Homo sapiens: one gene and its partners. The protein of the gene in region 7 interacts with the protein of the main gene of each other region in a pairwise test. Each region holds a gene or a part of one and is shown on either strand. Other genes may lie near its edges. The genes, in order: TNFAIP8, GFM2, CCDC85A, TPST1, MME, ANKRD31 and TMEM132D.

Region 1 (4,409 bases), on a different chromosome or scaffold from region 7:
AAAAGAACCCAGTGTTTTGTTTTGTTTTGTTTTGTTTTGCGGGGGAGGAGTATTTCAAAGTCACCATTTTCTCTGACATGTCTTCTTTACTATGTTGCCTTTTAAGGTTAGCATGTATTTTTCTGGAGTATAAGAAACAGAGTGAATGACTTAGCTTGCCACTGTAATGGTGCCTGTCACTGGTTCTTAACCACTTGGGGGGATGTGCATATACCCCAAAATGTGCATTCCGTATCAGGTTAAGGACTTCAGATGTATTGATTCTCCCAAGACTATGTTCTGTGTGACAGCCTCCATCTGTGTGGCATAAGGCCAATTTTGGGATTAAGGTGCCTGGCACTTGTCTTCTCTCTCTAGTTGATAAGATTGCCTCCAGCTTGCTGCCATGGTCGTTGCTTCTGACCCTTCCAGGGCAGCCCCCTTTAGAGTTCATATCTGTGCTGCTTCTACTGGGTCTCCCTCCCTCCCTCCCTCCCTCTCTTTCCTTCCTTCCTTCCTTCTCCCTCTCTCTTTCCCTCTGTTGTTTCTTCTCTATGCTGTTGAATTTCTGACTTTGGGATTTTGAGTATGAAAGCTGGTGACACTGACACATCACTAGCTACTCCGAGCGTTCATTGCTTTTCTCTGGAGCACTGCCAAATCTCCATGTAGGGAGGTCAACTCTTCGCCTGCTGACTTCTTATGACAGGGTTCGTTGTTTGTTCTGGCCACTTTCTTATCACCAAAGCTGACTTTTTACTAAGTCCCATTAGATTTAGAATTATTTAGATACAAGAGAGCTAAGGTTTTATATATTTATTTAAAGAACTTTTATTAACAGACAACAGCCAGACATGCTTTCCAAATTATTATCTTTTCTATCCTTCCTAATATTGGAAACCTGGATCGAGTTTTAACTAGGCAAGAATTTGCAATGTATGTACATCTGTTGTCATCACTGTTAAAGAGTCCCAAGTATAATAGATTTGAGGGGAAAAAATTATGTATTTACTGGTAAGACTGTAAAGAAAATGATTTGAGTACTTTATTAGAAAATTCTCAGTGGGAGTAGTTATGTTATGGGGCATTTTTGTTAATTTTCATAAAACTAAGTATTAATAACAAAGGACTTTTTTTTCCTTCTGAGCATATTTTTTCTTGAATATTTGGGTCAGTATATTTTAACCATATTTATCTCTAACTTTATAATTTTGATGCTAAAGCCAGAATTCCCTAAATATCACTTTGCCTTACAGCAAATGTTGCTGAAATGGCCAAGGGAGGAGATACAGAGACAGAGAGGGAGGGAGGTAAGATAAGTAATGTAAAATAACATTTACACCCTATTTCTAGAAAATAATCTTAAACAGTTTTAATGTGGTGGTAATGCTTTGTATTTTTTTTTAAATACAGCATTATTCTTCATTAATGAACAATTTACATGTCTGTTTCCAAACACAAGTGAATTGATCTTAAGAGGCAAAAAACTGAATGAATATTTTCAGCACTTTCTCCTTGGGGAACATCTCCTGTTTACATCTTAGTTGCTTCCCAGGACATGCCTTAGGTATCCCTCTGGCACATGTCTAAACATAGATCCAGCCAGAAGTAGAGGTGGGCCTGTGTTTAATCTCCTGCTACAGTTCAAGTCAGAACTACACCTTGCTTTTACTCTAAATATTTGCATTATTGTCCTTGGATGTTTTCCCATTATGCACAACAAATCTCTCCTCTTTAAAAGAACTGGTTGATGACAGTAAGAGAAATCATACTCTGGAGCGCACTTAGAGGGAAGAAAAACCACATGTTTAGTGAGGTAAAACAAATACCTGTTTTTCTACCTTTTAATACAACAAACAAAAACACCCACTAATGTATTTACAACTCTCGTTTTACAGGCCAACATGTTTTCATAGAAAAGTATTTGAGTATATTGTGGATGAGATAGGGGAAATTGATTGCTGCTTCTGGACCAGCCACTCTCTAGGCCTGCAAGTTGACACAGTGAACATGATACACAGAATCTTTGCTCTCAGAGTTTAAATCCTAGTAGGGAGAGGCAGACAATAAAAATGTAGGCAAATGAAGAGGATTTAAGGAACAAGGAGGTGTGATAGTTAGCAAAGAACTTACATGAAGCATCTTTTTTTTTCTTTTCTTTTCTTTTCTTTTCTGAGACAGGGCCTTGCTGTGTCGCCCAGGCTGGAGTACAGTGGCATGATTATAGCTCACTGCAGCTCTGTAGCCTTGAACTCCTGGGCTCGGGCAGTCCTCCCACCTCAGCCCCCTGAGCAAATAGGACTACATGCCCAGCTATTTTTTTTTTTTTTTGAGTTTTTTTTGTAGAGACAGGGTCTTGCTATGTTGCCCAGGCTGGTCTCAAAGTCCTGGGCTCAAGTGATCCTCCCACCTTATCCTCCTAAAGTGCTGGGATTACAGGTGTGAGCCACTGCGCCCGGCCCCATTTGCAAATTTCATTTCTTGAAACTCTGGCTGATATGTGAAAAGAGATAGAAAGGGGTTTGGACTAGGCTGCTGTCCGTGGAGATGGAGGGAAATGGATAGAATTCAGAGAAATGCAGGAGGAAGGTGGAATGGAAAGAACTTAATAATGGACTGGGTGAGGGAGAGAATGGTATGGTGGATGATCCCCAGGTCTCTGATTTGATTGAGCAAAAGGTTGGAAGGGATGCTATTAATTGAGATCATAAAGAGTGAAAGAGGAGCACTTAGTAGGGAGGCAGGAGAGAATCAAAGATCAGTTTTGCATATGGTAAATTTGAGATGCCTGCAAAATAGTCAAGGAAAGAAAAATCTTGAATGCACTTACAAAATGAGTCCAGAAAAGAGGTCAGGGCTGAGTTATGGCTATGGGAGTCATTGGCACATGGGTGGTATCTGAAGCTGTGGCAGTGGATGAGATCACACAGGGGTGAGGATAGACTGAAGGAGAAAAACTTGATCCAGGACTAGCTCTGAGATACACCAGACTTTTAAGGGATCTGGTAGAGCATGTGGAACTGACAAATGAGCCTGCACAGGAATGGCTAACAGCAGTTAATTTGCAAGAAAAAGAAACAAACTTCATGAGCACAGACCACACATCCCTGGCCAGCGACTCTCAGCCACAAGCCCCAGTTGGCTTCAAAAAAACTTTCTCTAATGCTGGAAAATAAATCTACTCATGCATGTCTTCTTGGTGGAGGGGGAGAAAGAGCTTCAGATGGTGGAGGGGAACAAGGAGCTTCAACCTCATTTAAAAAGACGACTTCACTGGAATAACCCAAAGAATAAAAGGAAAGTGTGACACAGCTGCTGTGTTTCTGGAGCGGGGTTTGAAGTTCCTCTAGGATAAATATGAAAGCCTCAGAGATCAACTTCTCTATCTTGATTCATACTTGATTACCAGTAAATGGGGAATGATCTTGCTTAGTTGGCAGTAGATTTGCCTGTTACACACTCTCTTGCAGGAAGTTGAAGTGCTGTATCATAGAGTTTTTGTTTTCCATGTTTGAAGTTAAATGGGATATTGAGATTTAATCAGAAAAGTAGCTGAGAAGAGGTGTAAACATGAAAGTCCAGTCTTGGATAAAGGAGAAATCTTATGAATACCTCTCCCTCTGGTTTCAATATTTCACAACATAAAGTATGTCCAACTGATAGACTTGTAGTAAATCCCAGGTAAGATATTTGTAGACTGTGCCATGTTCTAAAACATTAAAAAAAAACACAATAACATTTCAACTTTATATGTAATATATTACTGAAATCCTGGTTATCTGCTGAGTAGCTGAAAATGGTTGGGTATCCCTATATAAATCAAGTTTATTGATTTTTTTTGAGGTCTATATCAGGAGTTCTAAGATGAAATATGGTCCCTGGTTTTAATGTGATACTGTTAGCTACATGGATGCCATTTCTTTTGACATAAATTCTTTAGTGTGAATTAATCTTTATACTCTTTTGCAAATCATTGAAGAATAGGAATAGAAACAGATTTCTGCTTAAATGATAAAAACATAAAACATTAAATGATGGAAACTTCTCCATAAAGTTGGCTGTTTCTCACACATTTTCACTTTCCTTCTCTTTTTCAAAATATATTTTAGTTCTTCTGCAGTTTCAGTTCATGTTTCAGAAGTTTAAATTTCGACATTTGTGAGGGGACCCTTTCTTATTCAATCAAGACATTCTTTGAGTGGATGTATGGCACTGTATATTTATAAATGATGTTCAGGTCATAAGGAACCATTTTGCAGCTGCCTCTACTATATACCACGAACTACTTTGGTCCAAATTTCAAATCTAATTTGGTTCTTCTTTTCCTCAATTTTATTTAATTTTAATTTTTTCTGAGACAGGGTCTCACTTTGTTGCCCAGGCTGGAGTGCAGTAGTGCAATCACTGCTCACTGCAGCCTCAACTTCCCA
Region 2 (4,409 bases), on a different chromosome or scaffold from region 7:
TAAGTGATGCTAAAATAAAATTAATGCCAAGTTTCTTTTTCTCTTTACTAGAATATATGCTGCTATAAAATAAGAGCAAGTTTAAAAAGATTAAAGCCACATGTGCCGCTTGGAAGAAATTGCAGTTCTCTACCAGGTACAAATGTTAGAGTCTTCTAATTTTATCTAAGCTGTTTGCTTTATCTCTTTTCTCTCTCTTGTTTGCAAGAATCTCCCTTATTAGGGCTCTGTAACCATTTTTTACTTCTTGGCTATTTCCTTGAGATTATTAGGGGCGGGAGTGTTCAGATAGGTGCCAGAAGGAAATACTAGTAGAGTTGTGCTCCTTATCTGAGGAACACGCTGATGAACTGAGCAAAGGAAAGGTTGGTGGCTTTAGTAGCTAGTTTGCAAGTTTAACATGTGAGTGTAATTGTAGAGTGCTCTTGTGAATTTCTTTTTCTAGTTTATTTCTGTTTTTTATGCAAGTGTTTTCTGTCAAGAGAGATTTACTAGAATAATTTATTTTGAGGATTGTTATAAGTAGTTTGGCTAAGTATTTGGGATTGTTTAGGTTAGATACATGGCATCAGAAGCTGGAAGGTGGAGGAGTTGACTTACTTTTGAATGTCCTTTCTGTGTTTGAAACAAGCAAGTGTATGGTAGACTCTATGAAACTAGTTTAATTCTGTTGCTGTTCTCATTACTGTGTTTGTCATGTGAGAATAATAGAATAAAAATACTGATTGGCTGTTGACTTACAAGGGCAGATTAATTTAATGGGCTACGTTATTGGTGTGTATCTAGGTCTCTGAATTTGGCTAATATGAATTTAACTGTAGTAGTATAGATTATCTTTTGATCTTCAAACCACCATGAAGTTTCAAAAATAATATAAAATTCTCCTTTTTGTATTATAGAAACATGGGAGAAATGGTTTAAATAACAGGAAGGCTTTAATTAAATTTACAAATGTAACTGCCTTGTTTCTTTAGAAATTACTTCTTAATATTAGTAAACTATATATTAAGCATAGAATAAGCCATATGGACTTTTTTATTTAAGAAATACTGCTTGGCCTTTCAAAAGTATTAAATTGTTATAGCTTCTATTCAGTGAAACCTCCCAGGCAGTCTTTAAAGGTATTGTGTCCTGGGATTGCTGAGGAAGGCAAGTTCCAAATTGTATAATAATTCATTATCAGCTGACATGAGGATCACTCTTAGCTCTTCAAACCCTGGAAAAGGCAGGTTTATAGGACTGTGCATTTAAAATTTTTTCTTTGATTCAGGATCATTGCCTTAAGATTATTATTATGAGCATTTATTCTAGTTCTACAATTTTGTAAATGGAAGTGAAGTAGGTGGCAGAGATTGGGGTGAATCTGTATTTTTCTGAGGATATGATCTAGAACTTGATGTTTAAAACTTTTACCTTGTTTTATTGTCATCCATAGCTTTCCTTATACATTGCAAGGAAATAAATTTTAGTTTATTTTAGATTTATTTAGCTTGAATTTTACTTTATTTGGACTTACAGTATTTGCTTAAAGTTATTTTAAAGTCTTTCATTTATAAATTAAAGGAAAATTTCATAAATGTAACAGTTCAATTTTAACTTTCTTTTCATTAGGCTTAATAGGAAATGATATCAAATCCCTTCATTCCATCATCAATCCTCCCATAGCTAAGTAAGTACTATCATTATATCATGCTTTTCCATAGACTGTCACGAAAATTTACAGGTTTTTTCTGATGGACAAGAGTGAATGCTGTAATTTCTATGACTTTCTGCCCTAGCCAATTTTAAGTAGATGTTGATAATGTATCTTAGCTATTTTTTCTCAATTAATGCTAAAAATTTTTAATGTAACAACAGCACACTTTTCTAGAATGAATATAAGATAGTCTCAAAATTGTAGGTTGTAGTTAGCCCTTTTGTTACTTAGCTATCTTATCAGAGTAATGTGGATATACTCTAAATGTTTTCCATTTTTCTAGTTTTTACACAGTTTTATAAATTATAGAAATACCAGCTTTGAAATTTGGATAGCATATATACTTTGGTTTTACAATTTTAGTAAAGTTTACCTTATTTTTTCCTTTTAAACAGAATCCGTAATATTGGAATTATGGCTCATATTGATGCAGGCAAAACTACCACCACAGAAAGAATATTGTACTATTCCGGATATACAAGATCACTGGGAGGTTAGAATGGATTCCTCCTCTTCCCACCCCCCCATTAGCAAAAGCATCATTGGAAAATATTTTGGTTAACAAGTCAACTTACACACCTTGAATATGGCATAGAGCTACTGATGTCTAATCCACAATTTAAAGATAAGATAGTTGCAATACCCACCAAAGGGTCTTCTTAGATTCAACTAAATATTCAGACTTGTAAGACTATCATAGGCCCCACTGGACACTCGTCTACTCAGAATGCTACAGGACAGGAACCACAGCTTACCAACAGACCAGCATTAGGTGTTTCTTTCTAGTAGAGTCCTTATAGCAGTCCCCGTAGCTATCTGGGAGCTATCTTCTTTGGCTGCTCCAGAGTAATGGATTAGATGCAAGGTGACAAGATTCATAGGAGCCACCCTAGCTTAGAAGATTCATGCCCCATAGGAATGAATGTCTCTTGTTATAACTTCATAGGCATAGCTTCCAGGTGTCACCTAAGGTACATGCCATACACAGGGAAGCCCAGAGTTCGGTATCTCCATAAGGTACTTATATATATAATTCATTTATAGTTCTTCGCAATTCAGATTTAGTTTACCAATCAGAAGTTGTTTTTTCCATAAGTTATATTGCCTAGGAATGTAGTTGACATACCTCTGTTATCTGGTTTCTAGAAGAAAAGAACCAAAAAAAGTAACCAGAAGTTAAATTCTCACATCAAAGAGGATTTTGTTAATCCTTAACCAAGTTATCTTTTGTCTTTTAAATTGTAGTTAAAAAAACATAAAATTTACCATCTTAACTATTTCTAAGTGTTAACTATTTTGGTAGTGTTAAGTATATTCACATTATTGTGCAACCAATCTTCAAAACATTTTCATCTTTCAAAATTGAAATTCTATACCCATTAAACAACTCCCATTTTCCCCTTTCCCCGGTCCCTTGCAACCATCCTTCTACTTTTTCTTCATGACTTTGACTACTCTAGGTACCTCATATAAATGGAATCGTAAGTATTTGTCTTTCTATGACTGGTTTATTTCACATAGTACAGTGTCCTCAAGGTTCATCCATGTTGTAGCATGTGTCAAGATTCCTTTTTAATTTTTTAATTTTTTTTTTTTTTTTTTTTTTTTTTAGAGACATAGGCTCTTGCTCTGTTGCCCAGGCTGGAGTGCAGTGGCCCAGTCACAGCTCACTGCAGCCTTGAACTCTTGGGCACAAGAGATCCTCCTGCCTCAGCTTCCTGAGTAGCTGGGACTACAGGCAGGTGCCACCACACTTGGCTAACTTTTGTATTTTTGGTAGAGACAGGGCCTCAGTGTGTTGCTCAGGCTGGTCTCAAACTGGGCTCAAGTGAAGATTCCTTTTATAAGGCTGAATAATATTCCATGTGTTTTTATTTATTTATTTCAAACTAATGCAGTTTATTATAACAAGAAGGAAATCAAGCTTTACAGTAATTATAGTCACTAAGCTGAAAAATCACCTACAAAAGTCATGGCAATAACTTATTTACAGTTAAAAAAGAGAATATCAAGATCTTGCTCTCATAGTAAGGTAAACTAGACATGTACACAATCTTATGATGCCAAGAAACTGAATATATAAAAATAGAACCCACATAGAATGTTCTCTCTCTCTTTTATATACACACACATTTGCTCTGTGATTGCCCTTAATTTTATGTCTTTATCATAACTGGTTTATTATATTTATAATTAAAGATAATCTTAGACTTTATATTCTAAAAAGCAACTAGGTTAACAGTTTTCTCCCCTAAGGCTTATTTTATTTTATTTTTTATTTCAATAGGCTTTTGGAGAACAGGTGGTTGGTTACATAAGTTCTTTAGGGGTGGTTTCTGAGATTTTGGTGCACCCATTACCCAAGTAGTGTACACTGTACCCAATGTGTAGTCTTTTATCCCTCACTCCCCTCCTGCCCTTTCTCCTGAGTCCCCAAAGTTCATTGTATCACTCTAATGCCTTTGCATCCTCATAGCTTAGATCCCACTTATGAGTGAGAACAAATGATGTCAGTTTTCCATTCCTGAGTTACTACACTTAGAATCCTGGCCTCCAATTCCATCCGAGAATAGTGGTCTCCAGTTCCATCCAGGTTGCTGCGAATGCCATTATTTCGTTCTTTTTTATGACTGAGTAGTATTCCATGGTGTGTATATGTGTGTGTATATATATATACACACACACTTTACACTGTTAGTGGGAATGTAAGCTA
Region 3 (4,915 bases), on a different chromosome or scaffold from region 7:
AACAGACAAGGGGGAATTATTCAAGGCTATTGCAATAGGGAAGAGAGAGAGGGAGGGAGAGGGGAACTAGTAGAAGACTAGTGGAGGAGATTAGGATGGGAAGTTGGTCAGTGTAATGAGGCCATTTGTGTTTCCTAATTGGAACTTATTAAAGTTAGGCTCCTCCTCTCCACAAACACTAGGAGATAGGGACCCTTTTTTCCTTGATGATTACATTTCAAAGGGATGCCTCACAGATCCCTGAGAAAGATCCCCAGGCTGTAAAACCCAGCAAGAGGCGGAGAGATTTACATGTCAAAGGGTCAGAGGAAACATTCACCAATGGAAGTTGGCTAAAGTAAATGCTCTGAGAAAAGGAAGGTCTGGGGCCTACAGTTAGGAAGAAACCTGTCTAAAGTTTAGTTAAGCTGAGGGGAATGTTAAGGCCATTTGGTCACCGTAAGCAGTACCACATTTCCTTGCCTCTCCCGGGAGCCAGGTCTCAGTGTCCCCAATAGGGGACACGCACTGACCGGCGGGTGAAGGGACTGATTTTGATTATCATCCTACCAGATAGAGATTATTCCCTCTGCACCCGGGTTAACTGAAACCCGGTGGGGGTAGATCCTTGCCATTTTCCGGCCCTGTACCCCACTGGAAATAACATGCGGTGGTCAAGGGCATCCACCTCTTTAGGCAAAAGCATGTTTTCAGCCCAGAGACGATTCCACCCAACTTTACAAGAGGATAGCCCAAAGATAGAAGCCAGGGACTCAGACTTCCTCCTTCCAGAAATAACCATCATAAAAAAGCCGACCCAGTAAACGCCTGGCAGCCTGCGGCATAGAAGAAAATGGAAATCTCCTTGGCTGGCATTTCAGCTTGCCTGAGGGGGCTTGCTTTGCTCCGAGGGGAGGTGACTGTGCTGACCTTAAAATCCAGGTTTCAGGAAGCAGGAGATGAAGGTATTTTATTTTCGCCTAAAGGCTTTGATATTTTTCAAATAAAAATTTAAAAGATCCAGTACCTTCTCCCGAAGCTTCTTCATAGAGTAGTGGATTTTTAGAAAACACAAAGGCCTAGGGGTGGGGCGAGAGTGGGGGGTGGGGATGGGTAGCCCCATAAGAGCAGTGCCCTGACGCCTCTTTTCGCCCTTTTCAGACCATTTGGATTTTCTTAAGCTGCCCCTTTCCCCAACCCCCGTTTTTGCCATTTGCCTCTCCTCCCATTCTCCAAAGTGCAAATAACTGGTTATCCCTCAGGTCCTGCTACCCCATCTTTCCTGATCCCCGATCCCTCCAAATACGAAGCACCTCGCATTTGGGTCAGCAGCTGTTTCCCCTGCCTGGTGACAAGGCCGGTGTGCAGAGGGCAGAGGAGGGAGCTTCTTCCGCCACACGGTGGCGCGCGCGAGCCTCCCAAAGACCGGGCGGCCACAGCTCCTCACCTTCTCCCCATTCCAGCCCCACCCGCCCGGGCGCAGAAAGAGCCGCGCCCCCAGCCCTCCCGGGCAGGACAGCCGGGAGCGCACCTCGAGGGCCCGGGCAGCGGTCGAGTGGCAGCTGCGTCCAGCCCATGCGGGAGCTGCTGCGGGTTACGGGTGGCCCCAGCTCCAGGCTCCTCCTCCAGCCGGTCCCCCACCCTCCACCCCTTCTCGACTCCGCTCTGCAAATCGAAGGCTTTCCGGAGCAGCCTAGGAGCGGCCGCGGGCGCAGCGAAGGCGGCAGGAGGAGCGCAGCAGCCTTCGGGCAGCCGCGGCGGCGTCGCTAGAGCAGCCGGGGAGGCGCCGCGGTGCCCGGCGCGCCCTCCAAGCTAGGAGAGGGGAGAAGCCGGGGGCTGCAGCTGGGCAAGGGGGAGGAAAGTGCGTGTGCGTGCACGCCTGTGTGCAGGGCAGAGAGTGCGGGGGGCGACAGTCTCGGCTTAGGGCGGAGGAGAGGGCAGGGGAACGGCGGTGCAGCTCCCCCGCTGTCCCCGAGGATTTCCCGCGGCAGCCCCGGGCTCCCCAGTGCCCCTCACCATGGACTTGCGCGGAGTTGGGACGGGCCTCGGCAGCAGCAAGCGGCTGGCTGCCGGGCCCTGGGGGAGCGCGGGCGCGCGCGCGGGGATGGCGAGGTAGGATGGCCACCCAGCGCGACCCCCGCCGCCCCAACCCAGCGGCCCCTGGGCGGTGCCGCTGACTCGCCGGAGCGCACAGGGGTGTGGGCGGAGGCGGCCTCGCCGCGCCCGCGCCTTCGGGAGTCGCCTCGCCTCTTCCACCCACTTGCACCTGCCACCCCGCGGATACCATGTCGAAGGCGGCCGGAGGCGCGGCGGCGGCTGCGGCGGCGGCGGAAAGTTGTTCCCCAGCCCCGGCCGGCTCGTCCGCGGCCCCGCCCGCGCCGGTGGAGGACCTGTCCAAAGTGTCGGACGAGGAGCTGCTGCAGTGGAGCAAGGAGGAGCTGATCCGCAGCCTGCGGCGCGCCGAGGCGGAGAAGGTGAGCGCGATGCTGGACCACAGCAACCTCATCCGCGAGGTGAACCGCCGCCTGCAGCTGCACCTCGGCGAGATCCGCGGCCTCAAGGTGAGCGCGGGCCAGGTGGGGAGGCGCGGCGCGGCTGGGAGCGGGGTGCCCCGAGGAGGAGGCGGGGCCAGGCAAACTTTCCCTCCCTCCCTCAACAGGTGACCCTCCCCTTCTCCCGGTCGGCACCCCCTACCCCCAGTCCCCAGCCCCTGTGTAACTTTTCCAAACTTCGGAGGCGTCTGCTCCCCTCCTCTCCCCAACACGGGGCGCTCCACTGTCTGGCTGTTCGGGGAGGCGCTGAGGACGCTGGAAAGCAGGGAGGGAGGTGAAGGGCACGCGAACCTTTCATTTCTTAGGGAGGCTGGAAAATCTGTGCCTGGGGAGCCGGGTTTCAGTCAGTTAGGCGGAAAGGCCAGTGAGGGGGTGAATCCAGGGGATCTTCGCCTTGGAGGGTCGGGAATGCGGCTGCTCTGGGCCAGCAGCTCTTGGGCGGGCAGAGGGCGAGGAAAGGGCGCCACTGCCAGGGAGAGCGGCTGGCGGGGCGCCCGGGAGAAGCAGCGGGCGCCACCCTCAGAGCAGTCTTGTGTCACCGGGTACATAGGAGTTCAAGCTCTGCCTTCACGTCTTCTCCCAATTCCTGTGCTTTCCCTCTCCCGGAGTTTGGAAGGCATCCCCTGGAGTTGCCTTACTCCCCTTCCCACTTAACCCCAGGTTGACTGGGGGAAAGAGGAGGAGCAAAGAGACTCAGTATGGAAGGAGCAGCATTTTGACAGAGTACCCCAAGTGTTGGTCAGTGATGGTTTCTTTCTGAGCCAGCCCCCCTGCCACCCTCTTCTAGGAAAAGAAGGGAAACGTACCCCAAGCCCACTAACTTTCTTTTCTCCTTGGAGAGCGCCGGGTCTGCGAGGAGTGTGCCTGCCCAGCTGCAGTACACTAGTGGCCGGGAACCGCCCTGCTGGCGAGCACCACAAACTTCCTCTCCTTCCAGCTAGCGCTGGTGCCTCCTGGTATTCCTTCCTCTCATTGTTCTGCTTTGTTTGTAGGAAGCCAGACACAAACGAAATCACTGCAGGGACTTCAGGGAGCAAATTCCCGAAGGCACAAGCTGTTCTTTTCCCCTTTCCACTCCTATCCCCACATATCAGACAGTAGATGCTGTTCCGGAATTGCCTCAGTGCTCCAGCTCTGGGATTCTGGGGCAAGAAAGAGTGGGAAGAGTGGAATGCTCAAGGCTCACCTATGTGCTGGGCCCAGTTCAGGTGGAGATGGCCGTCTCCCGAGGCCGAAAGTCATTGTCATATAGTCCCTAGAGTGGGTGCAGGTAGGAAGATTCCTCCAGTCAGAAAAATGCCAAGGCTTACTCTCTCCTGTGGTTGAATTCATTACTAACAGAGTGTTTATTAAGTGCCAGTCTCTTTGGGGAATAGAGGCAGGCTAGTGTAGTAGGAAGATGATCTCAGAGGTGGGTTTGAATTCTAGAAACCTCATTTGCCAGGAGGGTGAGCTTGGGTAATTACTTTCTCAGATCCTCCTTTTATTCACCAATACAATGCAATGATAATAACTTTCTGAGGGTGTTATGGCAATAAGTTATGATTATGTAGGGGAAGGTTTAATACTTGACTATAAAATGGTAGTTACTGTCATCAGGAAAGGACTTACAAATCTATGGCTGTGTGTCCCCAAGATTTTGGTTTCTTAGGCAGAGCTGGACAAGGGGGCATTAGTTTGTCATCCTCTAATTTGAGTTTCTTCCATGGTCTGAACAATAGTGTGATTTAGAAGAGTTGGAAGAGTTATTATTAAATGTTTTAATAGTATGGAGCATCAAAATAATAGCTCAGAAACACTTGAAAGTTCCTTTAGGTTATGTGGATTGACTGTGTGTGATGTCTGTGTGTGGGTAGGGGAGGGGAATGGTAGAGTGGGTTGGTAGAGTGCCTGGGCTTCATTCCAGTAGCTTCATGTAGAGAAGTAGCTATTAGGTCAGCTAAAGGCCCGTACACCCAAGTAAGAAAGTCTCCTTGTGATCTAGATTCATGACCTGGCATTAAAAGACTTGCCAGTCTACTTCCTTATCAAGTTCAGAAATGATGGGGGCAGGTTGCTTTCTGATGCAGCTTCTACTCTTCTCATGTCATCCCTGGGCTGCTGCAAGGAGCGGACTCCCAGGCTTCTGGCCCACCCTGGGTGTGCTGTGGTTTTACTCTTTGGAGAGGCCAGCCTTCTCCCTTCTCTTTTTTATTTTGGCTCAGAGCTTCCTTGGACACCATAGTAATCCATAAATGTGGTTGATTGAATAAATGATGGGTACATATATTTATTTTGGCTTAACTGGAAGAAAAGAAGTATTTTTTTTTGTTAAGGGCGTGGGGGAGCGTCTGAGGGCTTGGCATTCTCAGTTGAGAACTATAAATGTAGGGGAATTAAGACCA
Region 4 (4,409 bases), on a different chromosome or scaffold from region 7:
TTAAAGATTTGGAAGTTGTTTCATATTTCTTCTATAATTTCTCATTGTTAGAATGTGGAGATAATGACTGCTTGGAGGTAAAGCAAGTCTGAATAGCAGAGATCAGCCTTGGGTTGGACTCCAGACATTCTTGGGCTTATTAAATATTTGGTTGACTCACTGATAGAAATAGTTTTATTTATTTTCCATTCTTTACCAGGTACATAGCTTCAAAATTACTTCATTAACAAAAGCTGTTTCTGATTATAAACATTGATTTATTTTTACTCAAATTTGTATATACTGTATATACTGAGTAAAACAAATTTTACTCATTTGTTTTTGTTTTGTTTTGTTTTGTTTTGTTTTTTTGAGACAGAGTCTTGCTTTGTTGCCTAGGCTGGAGTGCAGTGGCATGATCTCAGCTCACTGCAAGCTCTGCCTCCTGGATTCATGCCATTCTCCTGCCTCAGCCTCCCGAGTAGCTGGGACTACAGGCACCCGCCACCATGCCCAGCTAATTTTTTTTGTATTTTTTTTTAGTAGAGATGGGGTTTCACCGTGTTGGCCGGGATGGTCTCCATCTCCTGACCTCGTGATCCGCCCGCCTCGGCCTCCCAAAGTGCTGGGATTACAGGTGTGAGCCACCGCGCCCGGTCTCAATTTTGTTTTAAGAATATCAAAGAATCCAAGACTGTTTCAGCTTCTTTCTACCTAAAATGCAGTGGTGATAACTGGTGACTGATTTGTAAGCAATCTCAATGTAATGATAAATAACCTTTTCCTTTCTCTACTAGATGTTGGTTATCTTTCTGAAGTAGACTGTCCATGGCCTGAACATTTTCCGAAAATCATTTTGAGCAAAATATCTGTTTAATAACAAGATAACCACATCAAGATGGTTGGAAAGCTGAAGCAGAACTTACTATTGGCATGTCTGGTGATTAGTTCTGTGACTGTGTTTTACCTGGGCCAGCATGCCATGGAATGCCATCACCGGATAGAGGAACGTAGCCAGCCAGTCAAATTGGAGAGCACAAGGACCACTGTGAGAACTGGCCTGGACCTCAAAGCCAACAAAACCTTTGCCTATCACAAAGATATGCCTTTAATATTTATTGGAGGTGTGCCTCGGAGTGGAACCACACTCATGAGGGCCATGCTGGACGCACATCCTGACATTCGCTGTGGAGAGGAAACCAGGGTCATTCCCCGAATCCTGGCCCTGAAGCAGATGTGGTCACGGTCAAGTAAAGAGAAGATCCGCCTGGATGAGGCTGGTGTTACTGATGAAGTGCTGGATTCTGCCATGCAAGCCTTCTTACTAGAAATTATCGTTAAGCATGGGGAGCCAGCCCCTTATTTATGTAATAAAGATCCTTTTGCCCTGAAATCTTTAACTTACCTTTCTAGGTTATTCCCCAATGCCAAATTTCTCCTGATGGTCCGAGATGGCCGGGCATCAGTACATTCAATGATTTCTCGAAAAGTTACTATAGCTGGATTTGATCTGAACAGCTATAGGGACTGTTTGACAAAGTGGAATCGTGCTATAGAGACCATGTATAACCAGTGTATGGAGGTTGGTTATAAAAAGTGCATGTTGGTTCACTATGAACAACTTGTCTTACATCCTGAACGGTGGATGAGAACACTCTTAAAGTTCCTCCAGATTCCATGGAACCACTCAGTATTGCACCATGAAGAGATGATTGGGAAAGCTGGGGGAGTGTCTCTGTCAAAGTGAGTAGAAGATACGTTTTTTATTTTGACTCTATATTTAGCTAATAATGATCTATACATATGTATGTATGTGTTTTATGTATATATGTGTGTATGTTCCTGTGTGTATATATAGAAACTGAAGACCTTTTCTGGAACAGATACAGCTTCATTGATGAGGTTTCTTTTTTTATTAATTCTCTACTAGTTTATTACAGATGTTCACTTATTTATACTTCATTTTTTCATTTATATATCGTGGCCCTCTTTATTTGTTTGATGGATACAAACCCACCTTACAGGCGGTGAAAAGCCTTCTTCAGGGTCTCAGACCTTAATGCCAATCATTCAGTTTTAGTGGCTTCTGATTTCTAATTTCTAGATATTGTTGTTAATGAGGATAGTTGGCTTTTGTGTGGATTAAGGTTAAAATCAGGAAGTGCATATATCATGTTAATGAGCACATAGTGAATTATAAGCATTTTGAAATTTTTAGTGGTAGAGAAAAATAAAAGCTTCGTCTAACCTAATCTCTTCATTTTATGGACAAGAAGACTGAGTCACAGTAAGATTAAAACGATTTGTTCAGATTTAGATGGCAAGGCCAGAATTCGAATCTGTGCCTTGGTCTCAATGAGGTCGTGCTTTTCTCCGTGGCATTTTACTACGTGTTGTGCTTCCTTTGTCATCTGAAGGATATAACCTCTCTTATTTTTTACAAAAGGCTAGAGAATCTCCAAAATTTGGAAGCCTAATCCATACAAGAAGTTCCTTGGATTCAAAACTTCTCAAATGATGATTTTTAGCATTTTGCTTCTTTTCTTATGAAGTGACAACTAGTATACCCTCTAACCTGTCTTGATGACTTATATACCTGGAATGAGGATATAAAAATGGAAACTACTATTAAATTCAGGTAGCATCTCTTCATGAAGAAGAGTTGGCTATAACTAAATTTTATTTTTGTTTTTTTTCTTTTATCAAAGTAATATATAACACCTGTAAAAAAGAAATATATAAGGTGTTATATATACATATATAAAAAGAAATATAAAAGGTGTTATATATACTTTTTATCAAAGTAATATATAACACCTGTAAAAAATACTTTCCTTGTGTGCCCTTCTTACTTTCACCAAGGAATATCTGCTTAATTTTTTTTTGCTGTATAGAACTTGTATAGTAAATAGATTTCTTATGTAGATAATCTCAAAGGAACAGCTGCCTGCCTGTACCAAGCTTTCAATTATTGATTATAAGTTATGACATACCATCATTGTAGTGGCTCTAGGTTGTTTTTATTGATTCAAAGAAAATTTCAGCTCTGGCTACTCTGATTGCAGTTTATTATTATTTCCAGATAATAGACTATAATTGATTTTTAATCACCTGTATTAGGTATTTCAGTCTTTGTGCTTGTATGTTGGCCCGGCACCGATGCCACCTACATCTGCTAATATAAAAGGAGGCCATTAGACCACCAGCCTCTTCAGTAGGGATTAAAGAGATATGCTTAAGTTAAATTTTGGTGCTAATCAGGAAGAGAACATTTTGTGTATATACTTGCTATGTTTAAGGTAAACATAAAGGCCAAGAAAATTCATAGAAATTATATTATGAATTAATGAATTTTAGAAAGTAAAGAGATGTTACTTAGCATTTCAGTATGTGGAATGGAGGCCCTGTAAGGCTCTATGTTTTTTCAAAAATTAACATGTCACAATCATGAGTAGAACCTACCATGCTTATTCCAAGATTTTTGCATTTGGGGTCTTTCTAGTTTGGGGCTATTATGGATCAAAGTTGCTAAGAACGTTCTTGTACATTACTTTTGGTGGATATAGCATTCATTTCTTTTAGGTATATACCAATGAATAGAATTGCTGGATGACAAGGGGTGTGTGTGTGTGTGTGTGTGTTTGTGTGTGTGTGTGTGTGTTTAACAGATACTTTCTAACAGTTTTCCAAAGTGTCTCTATCATTCATGTATGGCTGTACTGTAAATGAACATGTTCTAGTTGCCTCACATCTTTACCAACACTTGGTATTTTAGTCTTTTCTGGTAGGCTACAATTGTTTTTTAAAACTTAAAAGCAAAATAATATTTGAACCCCTTTTTGAAAGAAAATCTTACCCAGAATTCCAATATAAAACAAGAGCTGCTTTGGTTGAGGTGAGTCTAAACTAGACCATATTTCCTTCTTTTGTTTTTGAGATGGAGTCTCTCTGTGTCATCCAGGCTGGAGTGCAGTGGCATGATCTCTGCTCACTGCAACCTCCATCTCCCAGGCTCAGGTGATCCTCCCATCTCAGCCTCCCGAGTAGCTGGGATTACAGGCACGCATCACCATGCCCAGCTAATTTTTTTTTTTTTTTTTTGTATTTTTGGTAGAGCCCCATGTTGGCCAGACTGGTCTCAAACTCCTGAGTTCAGGCAATCCATGTACCTCAGCCTCCCAGAGTACTGGGGTTACAGGTGTGAGCCACTATGCCTGGCCAGCCATACTTCTTTTTTAAAGATTGAATCCCTACTCTCAAAAACTGCTTTTTGGGGAATAAGGCAGAAAATACAAAATTATTACATAGTGCCAAGTTGTAAATATCCCATGTTCATTATAATAAAGAATTTATTGCCCACAGTCAGTCATCCTGTGTGCTTTTCGTTTTATTTAAACATTTTTATTCTGGGAAATTTTTTTTTTTTTTTT
Region 5 (3,500 bases), on a different chromosome or scaffold from region 7:
TTTCCTTCACTATAGTTGGTTCGTTTTATTTTGAACTGTGTGGGTCCTTCCACCCTGGGTCCCACAGCCTTCCCACCCCACCCCTGAATAACTAAGTTTCTGGCTAGTTCCTATCTCAGAAGAACAAAGAATAGAGGTCTACTTTGAGTTGGCCATCCTGCACCTGAGGTTAGCATGCCATTCTTCACTCTGATAACTTTAGTTGCCAACTCTGCTCTTCAAAGTGCTGTGACTTTTGAAAGTCTCTGAGACTCCAAGCCATGGAAGATTGTTAATGAATTTTTATCATTTTAGAAAAGATCTGAAGACACTGTTATTACTTCCTGGACCTTGCTCAAATAAATTTTGTAATTCAAATTTGACATCCAATTTGCATTTGTTTATATAGAGTCTGTCATTATAAAACTGGCTGTAAGCTTATTAGTTTTTCTTAGGTCCACTTTTATCTTTCAGGACTATGATGAAAATGCAAATCAACCAACACTGAGTATTTACAATCAAGACGTTGACTCTGGTAGGAGCTGCAATTGATAGAAAGATGTATAAAATAGGAATTATTACCAACGAAGAGGAGAATATGGCCCAATACCCATAATGTCTATACCCGGAACAGAGAAAATTCTGCTCCTGCCCTCCCCACTTTGAGTCTCATACAAGTTGAACTGTTTTGCAATGAAAACAAAAGAGCAATTGAGAATTCATCTGTATCAAGAGAATATAAGCTCTCAGATGAGCTTTTGAAAATACTTCACTTTATGAATTAATTAATTAATTAAAAACTTCAAACAATTGCTGAGCTGTGTGGATTTTTTAAACTTGGTATGGTAAACATGGTTTCCAGCTGAGCCTCAAGCCCCCCCATTGAACCACTTTTTTGGCATGTTTGCTTGTCTGGAACCTCAGGACCCAGCTCTTTAAAACAAAACGCTCAGGACTGTTACCAAACCAGTCATCTCATGAGTTGTATGCCTTAGTATACAGCACAGTTGCTATCATAGCCTCCTGGATTTGAAACTTTGGGTAAAACTGTATTTCTATTTCCCCTTGGTTTACTGGTAATTCCTTTGCCCCTCTTCCATACCTCTCATTCTGATTGGTACCTGGTTTATATCATCATTCCTTTTTGACTAGAAGTCACCCAGTTCTTCATCTTGATATATTCTACACATCTTCCACAAACCAAACTTCCCGAAAGACTCTTTGACACTGGCCACAACCTTGCTGAAAAATGTCAGTGGCTTGACATTTCCCAGGTTAAATTATAAAAGCTTGGCAGGGCACAGTGGCTCACGCCTGTAATTCCAGCACTTTGGGAGTCCAATACCAGCCTGGCCAACATGATGAAACACCAACTCTACTAAAAATACAAAAATTAGCTGCCCATGGTGGCAGGCACCTGTAGTCCCAGCTACTCAGGAGGCTAAAGCAGGAGAATAGCTTGAACTCGGGAGGTGGAGGTTGCAGTGAACCAAGACAGCGCCACTGCACTCCAGCCTGGGTGACAGAGAGAGACTATCTCAGAAATAAAAATAAAATCTTTAGCTTGGTGTCTAAACCTTTACCAGAATAAACGTATCACCCTACCTTCCCCTTTTCCTCTTTTGGTGGTTTATGCAAACTCTGTTCCAACCAGATGGCCCTCGTCAATGTGTCACAAACACTCCTTGTGTTTTCTTAGTCCTGTGTCTTTGCTTTAACCTCCTCATCCCACAGCTTTGATTGCCCCTGTCATTCTTTCCAAATTCTACCCATCATTCAACATTCAGCTCATGTTCCATCTCTTCCCTGATGCTTCTGTGACTCCAAACTTCAAGGAATATTTCTCTTGACTCCTGAGAGCTCATTGCCTCACTCTGTCTTCAATGTGAGACTACTTTGAGTTTTTCATTGTAAATACCTACTCTGTCTACCTAACCATTTTGTTGATGTGATTAATCTCTTTGTATCACCTAGCACCTAGGTAACAGGGGTGCAATTATGGTTATGTGTGACTGAATCATCTATGAGTCTTCTTACCACCTTCTCTTACAGCCCATCACTCACCTCCTCTCCCCTTGCCACAGAGGTCAGATCCGTTCTCAGTTCATTGCCTCCAGAGTCCATTCCATCTTTCCCATTGTTTCCATTCTGTCTCAAACCCTCTTTCTCTCAGACTCTATTTGTGCCCTTTTGACAAAGTTGTGGCCCCAGGCCTCTTCTTACCTATGTCCATTCTGTACTCCACAGGCAGATTCATATTCTCAAAATACTTCAGAATGTCATTTTCCACTCCAAAGTTTTCAATACCATCCTTTTGCAATCATAATAAAATCCAGATTCCATAGCACATTCTAACACTAATAGAACGAATGAAGCTTCTCCTTTGCTACTTTCTCGCATGAGCCATCTGTCACAGTTAAATGAGTATATTCAGTTTCTGTGAGACACCTTATGGTTTTCTGCCTCTGTAACTTTGAGCATGTTACCCAGCCCCTATACGTACTAATAAATATTATTTCATATTATTTCATTTTGGAATTTCAGGCATTTTCAAAGCCCATTCCAAATACTTCTTTATGAAAGACTGGCCTGACAAAAGTCTGTATCAGCTCACAACATATTCATTTTTCGCATGCAAATTCATTATCTCCTCACCTGGACTGTGGCTCTGTGAAAATAGAAAATGCATATTCTCTCTCACAGAGCCTAACACTGTGCTCAGTCAAGACTTGCCAGTAAAAACTCCAACTTTAACACCTCAGTTAAAGACTAGGAAACTGATCTAAAAAAGGTAGAGAGAAAAAGCAATTCCCTCGAATTTTGAAGGAAATAAAAATATGGTAACGGGAAAGGTGAAAAATAAAGATCCTAAATACATAGAGGATTATTATGTAAAGTGAAAAACCAGAAAACTAGAGCCTGAAAGAAGTGCTAACTACAGACATTCTAAGAACACACTTAGCAATATATAACTCTTCTCTTTTAAGATACTTAAAAACATTTAAACTGAATGTTGTGAAGGCTATGCCATTTGGAGGGGGCACTTCTGTTTTCTTCCTCTTTCTGGGGAAATGAAAGCTTCTGTCACGACATCACAGAGCAATGAACTCTACTCAGAAAAGTAGTGAACAATTAATGAACAAGCAGAATGAACAAGCAGAGCATGAACAAGCCCTACTGCCTATTTGGAAATACCACCGGTCCTTAAACACTCTGAATAAAAAGGATGGCTGGAAGTTTCAGTTCTCTGATCATGAGTGCAAATTCTCCATCCTGTAAAAGCAACTGTACTTCCCACATCTCCCAGGGGGCAAAAAGTACAGTTAAATTACTTGCATCTGCACAACAAACCAAAGAAATAACATTCAGTTTGTGAGGGATGTGCAGAGCAGAGAGAGGAAGAGGCAACTTTGCTAACTCCTTCCAGGGCCACTCTTTAAAATTTCCCTTTGACCACCGAGCTTGTCTGAGCATGGATGCATCCAATCACTTCAAAGAGCGCTCTCTGTTCTGATGAATAT
Region 6 (3,450 bases), on a different chromosome or scaffold from region 7:
TTGTTTTATAGGGACAAGATCTCACTATGTTGCCCAGGTTGGCCTTGAACTCCTGACCTCAGGTGACCCACCCATCTTGGCCTCCCAAAGTACTGGGATTACAGGCATGATCCACTATGCCCAGCCCCAGACAAAATTTTTAATAGACACTTTCCTAGTCCTAGGAACTTTAATGGATGCTAAGTATATGAAAGATGCTTATGCTAAATACTAATCAGGAAGATGCCCGTGAAAATAGTAGACAAATTTTTCTACCATCAGAATGGCAAAACTTAAAAAGACTGATAATATTCAGTATTGGCAAAGATGTGGAAGAAAAGAACAGGTACTGTCACACATAGTCTCATAATACTGTTGGTGGTAGTATAAAAGGATGCACTTGGGAGGGCACTCTGGCAGAACCTCTTAAAATGTAAAATGTTTACAGACCCCTCAACTCAGTAATTCTGCTTCTGAGTATCAATCCTATAGAAGTATTGGCACATGCCTGAATAGTGAAAAGTGAGGAATAAATTATGAATTATAAACAAATTATGGTAGATGCATTAAGTTTTTCAAATCATAACTAAAGTGGGGGATAGTATCTTATAGAGGAAAAGACCAGTGTTAAATAATAGTGTTTAAATGATGAAACTAGGCTAATTTTGATGAAAAGAATTTAAATTAATATGTAAAGATTTATTTCTATGGGTTTTTCCTAAGAAAAAAATATTCCTTAACTTTTATGAGATACCTTGTTTCCGGAAGTCTATAAAACAAAGCTCCTAATAAAGGAGTTACTATGTTTACATATGGACCATGTGTAAAAAAGTTTAAATTCTTTGGATTATAAGTGATGATTTAAAACCCACATCAGACCGGCCTCAACCCCTCAAAAAGGAATTTTATTGACTCATTTACATGAAAGACCAGGAACAGATCTTCAGGTTTCATTCAGGGTTCAAAGAGCATGACAGAGCACCAGTTTCTCTTGCTTTCCATTTCTCAGCTCCATTTCCTCATTTTGGCGCCATCCTAATAGCCTTTCTTCTCATCATCCCAGGGCTACATGCTTCCAGGTTCAAGTCTAAAAAAGAAGACTCTGTATGTGACTCTTTGCCAAAATACCCAATAAAAATCTCATTGCACTTTGGGAGGCTGAGGCGGGTGGATCACCTGAGGTCAGGAGTTGGAGACCAGCCTGACCAACATGGCGAAACCCCATCTCTACTAAAGATACAAAAATTAGCTGGGTGTGGTGGTAGGCACCTATAATCCCAGCTACTTGGGAGGCTGAGGCAGGAGAATCACTTGAACCTCGGAGGCAGAGGTTGCACTGAGCCAAGGTCATGCTATTGCACTCCAGCCTGTGCAACAGAGTGAGACTCCATCTCAAAAAAAAAACCAAAAAACAAAAACAAAAACAAAAAACTCATTACATGTCACTTCTCTCTGAATGGGATATGTTCTGACCCCTGAATCTATACCTGTTCACTCATTGGTGTAGATCTAAGCAAATCAGGAGGTTGAAAACAACTCTACCAGAAGCATGTGGGCCAAGCATGAAGAAAGGGTTGGCCATACAGAGGTGACACTCATATTGTTGCTATCTGTGGAATAAGATTCAACTTGCTGAATGATGTACAGCTCATATAGCCAATCTCAGAGAAGAAAAAAAAAAATCTCTCAGACTGTCAGGGAGCTTGAAGAAACCAGTTTTAGGACCATTAGCCCCATAGACTGGCAGAGCCAAAAGGAACCCTCTTTATCATCACTCCTCTCACATCTCAGAGATGGAAGTCTGGAAAAGCCATATGACTTGCTTGAGATCACACACCAAGTTTGTGGCAGAGGCAGGACTAGAAATCATGCAGCCTAATACTCTTTTTAGTACTAAATAATAATAGCGTCTAGTATTTATTGTTTGCTATATGCCCGGCGGTATGCTAAGAATTTCACATGCAAAATCTCAGTTAATACAACTGTTTTATTCTCCGTTTATTGGAAATTGAGGCAGAGAGGAGCTTGTACCACTACCTTCAGAAGCTTCCACCATCCTTTTTCTGCTGATGTTTTAGACTTCAAACAGGCCCCTCTTTCCCAAGATCAACCAATGCTGGTTCATAGCTTTGTCTTGAGTACAGAAAATAGGTTGAGGGAAAAGGTCCTGATCAGAAAACCTGTTATGTGTGCTCTCAAATAGACTTGATTGGATTCTAGGATTTGTAATAGCAAAATTTACATCTTAAATTTCAGAGGGCAGTTTTTAATTTGTTGATACTTCTTTAAACAGGAACTTCCAGAGAGTCAATGCAAAGCAGCCCACGTTATCTACAAATAAATGAAATACTATTAATCAGTGATCAAGAATTTCTCCCATGCCACATAATGGATCAGCATTGGAAGTTTTGTGTGGAATGTGAGGAACTAACACCCTAAAACCTTGGTTTCTTAATATTTTATTGGATATTTGTTCAAATTACCAACAAACATTTATATTTCATCTTGTATAATCTGGTGGGCCTATTTTAACATACACTTTATGAGTTGCTATTTAGGATGTATGTTTACTGTTCTTAAGATGTATGTAACTGTTCAACAATTATATAAGATTAATGCTTTTTTGCCATTGAAATAAAGGCACATTTGAACTAGACCATATTGATTGGCTCTCTGGCTTTCTTTTTACTAATATAAACTTAAAACTAACTTTTCAATCAACACCTCTACCTTTGTATAAAAAACAATTGATCCCTAAGGAAATGAGGATACAAGTAAGTGTAATCCATGGATAATTGGTCCTAAAAAGGCCCAGGTTAAACAAATCCCTTAAGAACTTAAAGTCCTAATACCTTTCACATTTCCTTTGAAGTTTTTCTCAAAATCAAAATGTAAAATTATGAAGGAGGTTTAAGTTTCATAAAATTTAGTGTAGATAGGATTGTAGCTGTGGTAAGTCTTGGAACAAAGAATGAATCAAGTGTTGATTTGGAGTCTGATCATTTAAAATAGAACATCCTTCACCTTTGACTTTTGCTACATTATCACGAAGACTTTTTTTAAAAAAAAGAGATATATTTAAGAGATTTTTCAGTTTTCTCAAGGGTCTCTCTTAATCCTTTGATAGCCAAGTTACTCTTTCCTTGTCCTTCATTACCCCAGGTTCCCAAATAAGCTTTTGGCTCCATGGCCTTATTTATCCCTTCTATTTCTTTTGAGTATAGAAGTCAAAATTGCAATAAACATAACAGGCATACCTCAGAGATACTGCAGGTTTACTTCCAGACTACTGCAGTAAAGCGAATGTCAACTAAAGGGAGTCACGTGATTTTTTTTCCCCCAGTTTCTATAAAAGTTATGTTTACACTATACTGTAGTCTATTAAGTGTGTAAAGGCATATCTTAATCAATGTATGTACCTTAATTTAAGAATATTACTAAAAAATATGAGCATCTGAGCCTTCCGCAGGT
Region 7 (4,409 bases):
CAGCTGGATCTGCTTATGCTATCTGAAGCCACAGAGACAGGCACATCCTTCTTTCAAAAGACAGACATCTCTGTAGTTAAAAGAAGTCATCGCTTTTCCAAGTCAAACTCATGGAGTTTCTTCAATATTACTTGCTATGATAAGGGGTCTAGGTTTCTCATTTTCTGAATGAGTTAAAATTTTCCATTTTTCCCCTTCAGCAGAAGGAGACCAATGTAGCACAATTCTCTGGATTTGATATCATCCATCCATTGCCAATGCAATATGGTGAAAATACTTTATTTGTCCTATAAATTATAATTGTGTGAACTGAGCCAGCAAGACAGCAGCCCTATTTTCTGTTCAGCCTTCACTCACACATCTGGAAACCACACCTGGTCCTGCCTTGGGTCCAGCCCTCCTGCCATGGGGCACTTGACCCTTGCTCCACACCTTCCCATCCCTCAGTGGATGGATCGAAGGGGAGCATGATTTTCACGCCCTACAGAGCTTATCCCGAGGCTTGTCCACAGAAATGGGAAAGAAGCCTTCTCTGATCCCCACCAGCATCAGATGAGGCTGGGCGTGAAGTCATTTGTCCATCACACTGTCCAGGCCTGTATTATTCTGTTCTCATGCTGCCAAAAGAGACACATCCAAGACTGGGTAATTTATAAAGGAAAGAGGTTTAATGGACTGATAGTTCCACATGGCTGGGAAGCCTCACAATCATGGCAAAAGGCAAAGGAGAAGCAAAGGCACAGCCTGCATGGTGGCAGGCAAGAGAGCGTGTGGAGGACAACTCCCATTTATAAAACCATTAGATCCTGTGAGACTTATTCACTCCATGAGAGTGTATGGGGGACACCGCCCCCCATGATTCAATTATCTCCACCTGGTCCCACCCTTGACATGTGGGGATTATTACAATTCAAGGTGAGATTTGGGAGGGGACTCAGCCAAGGGGATATCAAGGCCTATCCACCAGTAGAGCAGAAACAAAGAGGGTCTGAAAGGTAGAGAGAGATGAAGCAGGTTCTGGTGGGATCCTTAAAGACCCCGGGTCAGCCTCATCTAAAATCAGCACAACTCTGGACTCCTAAGTCTCTTAAGATAATTCGAAGCTTCATGTAACAGAGTCCTGATGGTGTGGAGTCAGGATAAAGCATGAGGATATTCCACATCCATAATGATAAAACTATGATTATTCATGAGTGCTCCTGGCCTTCCAGGCCTCCGCTTCCATAAGACACATTGACAAGACACCCCACAGAGCTCGCACCTTCCTTGTTGGTTTCTTGTAGTTTCTCTTTTTTTTTTCCTCTGGCAGTTTCATGACTGTCAACTCTTATTAAGCTTATTTTCATACGAATCTCCAAGTCTTTTTACACGTGTTCCTCTCAAACTCCTCTCTCGTACCTCCCAAGTCAGCGTGTGTGATCTACGTTCAGCATGTTGCAATATCCCCTTTGTCTCACATGTTAGATTGTCCTCATCTCAGGTGAGCTTTTGGTCACAACTCTGCCACGCAAAGGCCTTACCACTCCACCCCTTCTGTGTAGCTGCTCTTCTGAGGTTTGCGCGAAGGAGCTCATCTGTTTGGACAGCCACCTCTGATACAAATGTTCACCTGGGCAGGGCTGGGGACAGAGTCCTGGGGTCTCCTTGGAACGTGCTCAAGGTTCATACCACACCATCTGCTACCATCTGAGCTGCTGGGAATCCACCAAAGCATAGCACCCCCCAGGTACACGTCACCGTTGTGTGGACAACAGTGCTGGGGTGAGCGCTAATCCCAGTGCCCAGCATCAGTAAGCACCGAATACAGACCTCTTCATTTGTTTGTAACGTTACTGAAATCTCTATCTTTACTCCACATTCTATCCAGTAGCAAAACAAAGCTCTGTAGATACTGCCACACTCCCACCCCACCCAATGATTTCAGGGATCACTTCTAAGTTTTGAGAGGTTCGGAGTGACCACAACAACCAGGAGGGCTTTGTGATTGGTACAAATGATATCTTGTCTCCTGTGGTCAGTCCACACAGACTATGGTTTGTGCCTCCCTGGTCTTGACCACAAGGCCTCCTCGGGCCAATTGGGCTTCCTCAGCCATGCCTGCACAGCCCTGGCTGCCAGGAAAAGATTCTGCTATTTGAGCCATGCTCGGGCATGCTGCCTGGTCACCTCATACGAACATTCCTTCTGCTTCATCTCCAGGCTATTTAGGACAGAGTGTCTTCATTTGTGGCTCTCCCAATATATTCACGAAGTCAATCTAGAATATTTTTAATTTGTCATTGGAGTGACGTGGCACAGAGCAGCTGAAAAGCCCACCAGCATCTAAGCTGCCCTCCAAATTCTCCTGCCCTTTCCCCTAGTAAAAAAAAAAAATTACTTGGTGAAGGAAGAAGAGAAAGGCTGAGAAACCATATGCCTGGGAAGATAGGTTCTTCCAAATCTTTTCTCTATTGCTGGATACCAGCTTTTGAAATCAAAAGTCAGGAATTTGATTTCTCTGTCTCTCTTTTTTTTTTTTTTTTTTTTGTTTGGAGACAGGGTCTCACTCTGTCACTCAGGTTAGAGTGTATTACATGATCACAGCTCACTGCAACCTCCACCATCCAGGTTCCAGCAATCCTCCCACCTTAGCCTCCAGAGTAGCTGGGACAACAGGCACACACCACTGCACCTGGCTCATTTTTTTTGTTTTGTTTTGTTTTGTTTTTGTAGAGATGGAGTCTTGCTTTGTTGCCCAGGCTGGTCTTGAACTCCTGGACTCCTCAAGTGATCCTCCCACCTGGGCCCCCCAAAGAGCTGGGATTACAGACATGAGCCATCATGCTTGGCCTTGACTTTCCTGTCTCGTGCCTTCTGCTGTTCCAAGAGGCAGTGGCTGCCAGGTGTTCATCTGCACGAGAAAGGAGAGGCCAGGGCAGCAGGGAATGAGAGCAGGCAGGGCAATGTCGCCATCTGTTTTGATATCAAAATACTTTATTGCCACAATATCCTGCCAAACACTCTTTGAGTCTCGGCAGGCTATTTTATCACTGAAGCGTCTTCCCATCTACCAGTATAGCTTTCCTGACCAAAATGCAAACAAACAAATAACAACAATGAAATCTGACAGACATCTTCTTAGTGAATCTGCAGAGGGAGATTCCCATAAACATAAACATTTAATGTCACTCTCGTGAAAAGAATAACTTAATGTCACTAAAAGTTAAACACTTTTTTGGAACCTCTTGTCTTTCCAAATGTACATCTGAATCTCCCTTTATTTATATACTTTACTTACTTCCTAAGAGTGGAACCTCTTGTCTTTCCAAATGTACATCTGAATTTCCCTTTATTTATATACTTTACTTACTTTATATACTTTACTTACTTCTTAAGGGAGGAGAAGTGGCTATTTGAATTCTCTTTCAAAGGCATGTTTTTTACCTTTATAACTGTTGACTGATCTGTTCTAAAACTATGTACTTCAGTCGCTTTTCAGATGCATGCCACAGGTTTGTTTACTTTCAAGGTCAAGGGCCTTCCTTCTCCATCAATTCTTAATTTATGGAGGGGGTGCACCTTGGGTGACTCCTGAAACCAATGTTTAAGGACAGAGGTGACGGAAGCACCTAGCCTCTGACTGTGGTATGTACCCCTTAATTCTTCCTACAGCAGATTTTTCTTTTAAATAAATGACAAAGTCATCTAAAAATATTCCGAGTCTTTGGTCCCATGTCACAACAAATCCATGCTGGTTTCCTCTTCGTTTTGTGAGAGGCCGCACCATATCATCTCCACAATTCATTCAAGTGTGCTGTCTGGCGTCAAACATCAAAATCAACAACGCATATGTTCACAGCATCAAGCATCCTTCTTCTGCAAACAGGAAGAGTCTGTGTCTTCATTCCGCATGCTTCTTCCTCATTCTTTATAATTTCCCAGAGACCACTGATGTGTCACCTACACTTTTGGTCCTGGAAGACCAGAGGCCATGTCTTAGTCTTCCCTGCCCAGGACCCTACACATGTTAGGGACATAGATGAATAAACAGGTCCTGAAGACAGTCCACTGGGCATGTCTGCAAGTTCTTTAAGAAGCTTGACCTAGGGAGGTGGGGGAGGAGGAAAATAAAAATAAAAAAAACAAAAAAGAAGCTGACCTAGGAGATAACCAAACCATTCCACACCATCAGAGAATCTCTTCTACCTCCCTGGTGGTCTTGGAAGTAAATCCCCATTTTAATCCCTTTCAGGTGTTATTTCTGATTGCTGCTGGAAAAAATAATGCTGAGAAAACTAAATAACATGATGTTCATTTATTCATTTGCTCAACAAATATCAAGGGTCATCTGTATACCAGGCTCTGAGCTAAAAACTAAAATGGTCTCAAGACCTCTCTGCACTCAGCCCCTGGCAAGCCTGGCACCATGT

What was found.
Region 1: the proteins of TMEM132D (region 7) and TNFAIP8 interact in a two-hybrid assay, tested with the Homo sapiens proteins (one large-scale study listed by BioGRID).
Region 2: the proteins of TMEM132D (region 7) and GFM2 interact in a two-hybrid assay, tested with the Homo sapiens proteins (one large-scale study listed by BioGRID).
Region 3: the proteins of TMEM132D (region 7) and CCDC85A interact in a two-hybrid assay, tested with the Homo sapiens proteins (one large-scale study listed by BioGRID).
Region 4: the proteins of TMEM132D (region 7) and TPST1 interact in a two-hybrid assay, tested with the Homo sapiens proteins (one large-scale study listed by BioGRID).
Region 5: the proteins of TMEM132D (region 7) and MME interact in a two-hybrid assay, tested with the Homo sapiens proteins (one large-scale study listed by BioGRID).
Region 6: the proteins of TMEM132D (region 7) and ANKRD31 interact in a two-hybrid assay, tested with the Homo sapiens proteins (one large-scale study listed by BioGRID).

The regions. Positions count from the first base shown.
Region 1 is NC_000005.10:119,386,504-119,390,912, forward strand, and holds part of TNFAIP8 (tumor necrosis factor alpha-induced protein 8), read left to right. Parts: intron 1-1,240; exon of another isoform or gene 1,241-1,249; coding exon of another isoform or gene 1,250-1,289; intron 1,290-4,409. UniProt on the Homo sapiens protein: Acts as a negative mediator of apoptosis and may play a role in tumor progression.
Region 2 is NC_000005.10:74,756,629-74,761,037, reverse strand, and holds part of GFM2 (ribosome-releasing factor 2, mitochondrial), read left to right. Parts: intron 1-51; coding exon 52-136; intron 137-1,611; coding exon 1,612-1,669; intron 1,670-2,091; coding exon 2,092-2,189; intron 2,190-4,409.
Region 3 is NC_000002.12:56,182,361-56,187,275, forward strand, and holds the start of CCDC85A (coiled-coil domain-containing protein 85A), read left to right. Parts: upstream 1-1,629; 5' UTR 1,630-2,264; coding exon 2,265-2,540; intron 2,541-3,337; exon of another isoform or gene 3,338-3,410; intron 3,411-4,915. UniProt on the Homo sapiens protein: May play a role in cell-cell adhesion and epithelium development through its interaction with proteins of the beta-catenin family.
Region 4 is NC_000007.14:66,239,549-66,243,957, forward strand, and holds part of TPST1 (protein-tyrosine sulfotransferase 1), read left to right. Parts: intron 1-776; 5' UTR 777-877; coding exon 878-1,722; intron 1,723-4,409. UniProt on the Homo sapiens protein: Catalyzes the O-sulfation of tyrosine residues within acidic motifs of polypeptides, using 3'-phosphoadenylyl sulfate (PAPS) as cosubstrate.
Region 5 is NC_000003.12:155,111,319-155,114,818, reverse strand, and holds part of MME (neprilysin), read right to left. Parts: intron 1-3,500. UniProt on the Homo sapiens protein: Thermolysin-like specificity, but is almost confined on acting on polypeptides of up to 30 amino acids. Biologically important in the destruction of opioid peptides such as Met- and Leu-enkephalins by cleavage of a Gly-Phe bond.
Region 6 is NC_000005.10:75,067,487-75,070,936, reverse strand, and holds the end of ANKRD31 (ankyrin repeat domain-containing protein 31), read left to right. Parts: intron 1-2,272; coding exon 2,273-2,418; 3' UTR 2,419-2,640; downstream 2,641-3,450. UniProt on the Homo sapiens protein: Required for DNA double-strand breaks (DSBs) formation during meiotic recombination.
Region 7 is NC_000012.12:129,893,458-129,897,866, forward strand, and holds part of TMEM132D (transmembrane protein 132D precursor), read right to left. Parts: intron 1-4,409. UniProt on the Homo sapiens protein: Regulate neuronals morphology via inhibition of the WAVE regulatory complex (WCR), a complex that controls F-actin cytoskeletal dynamics.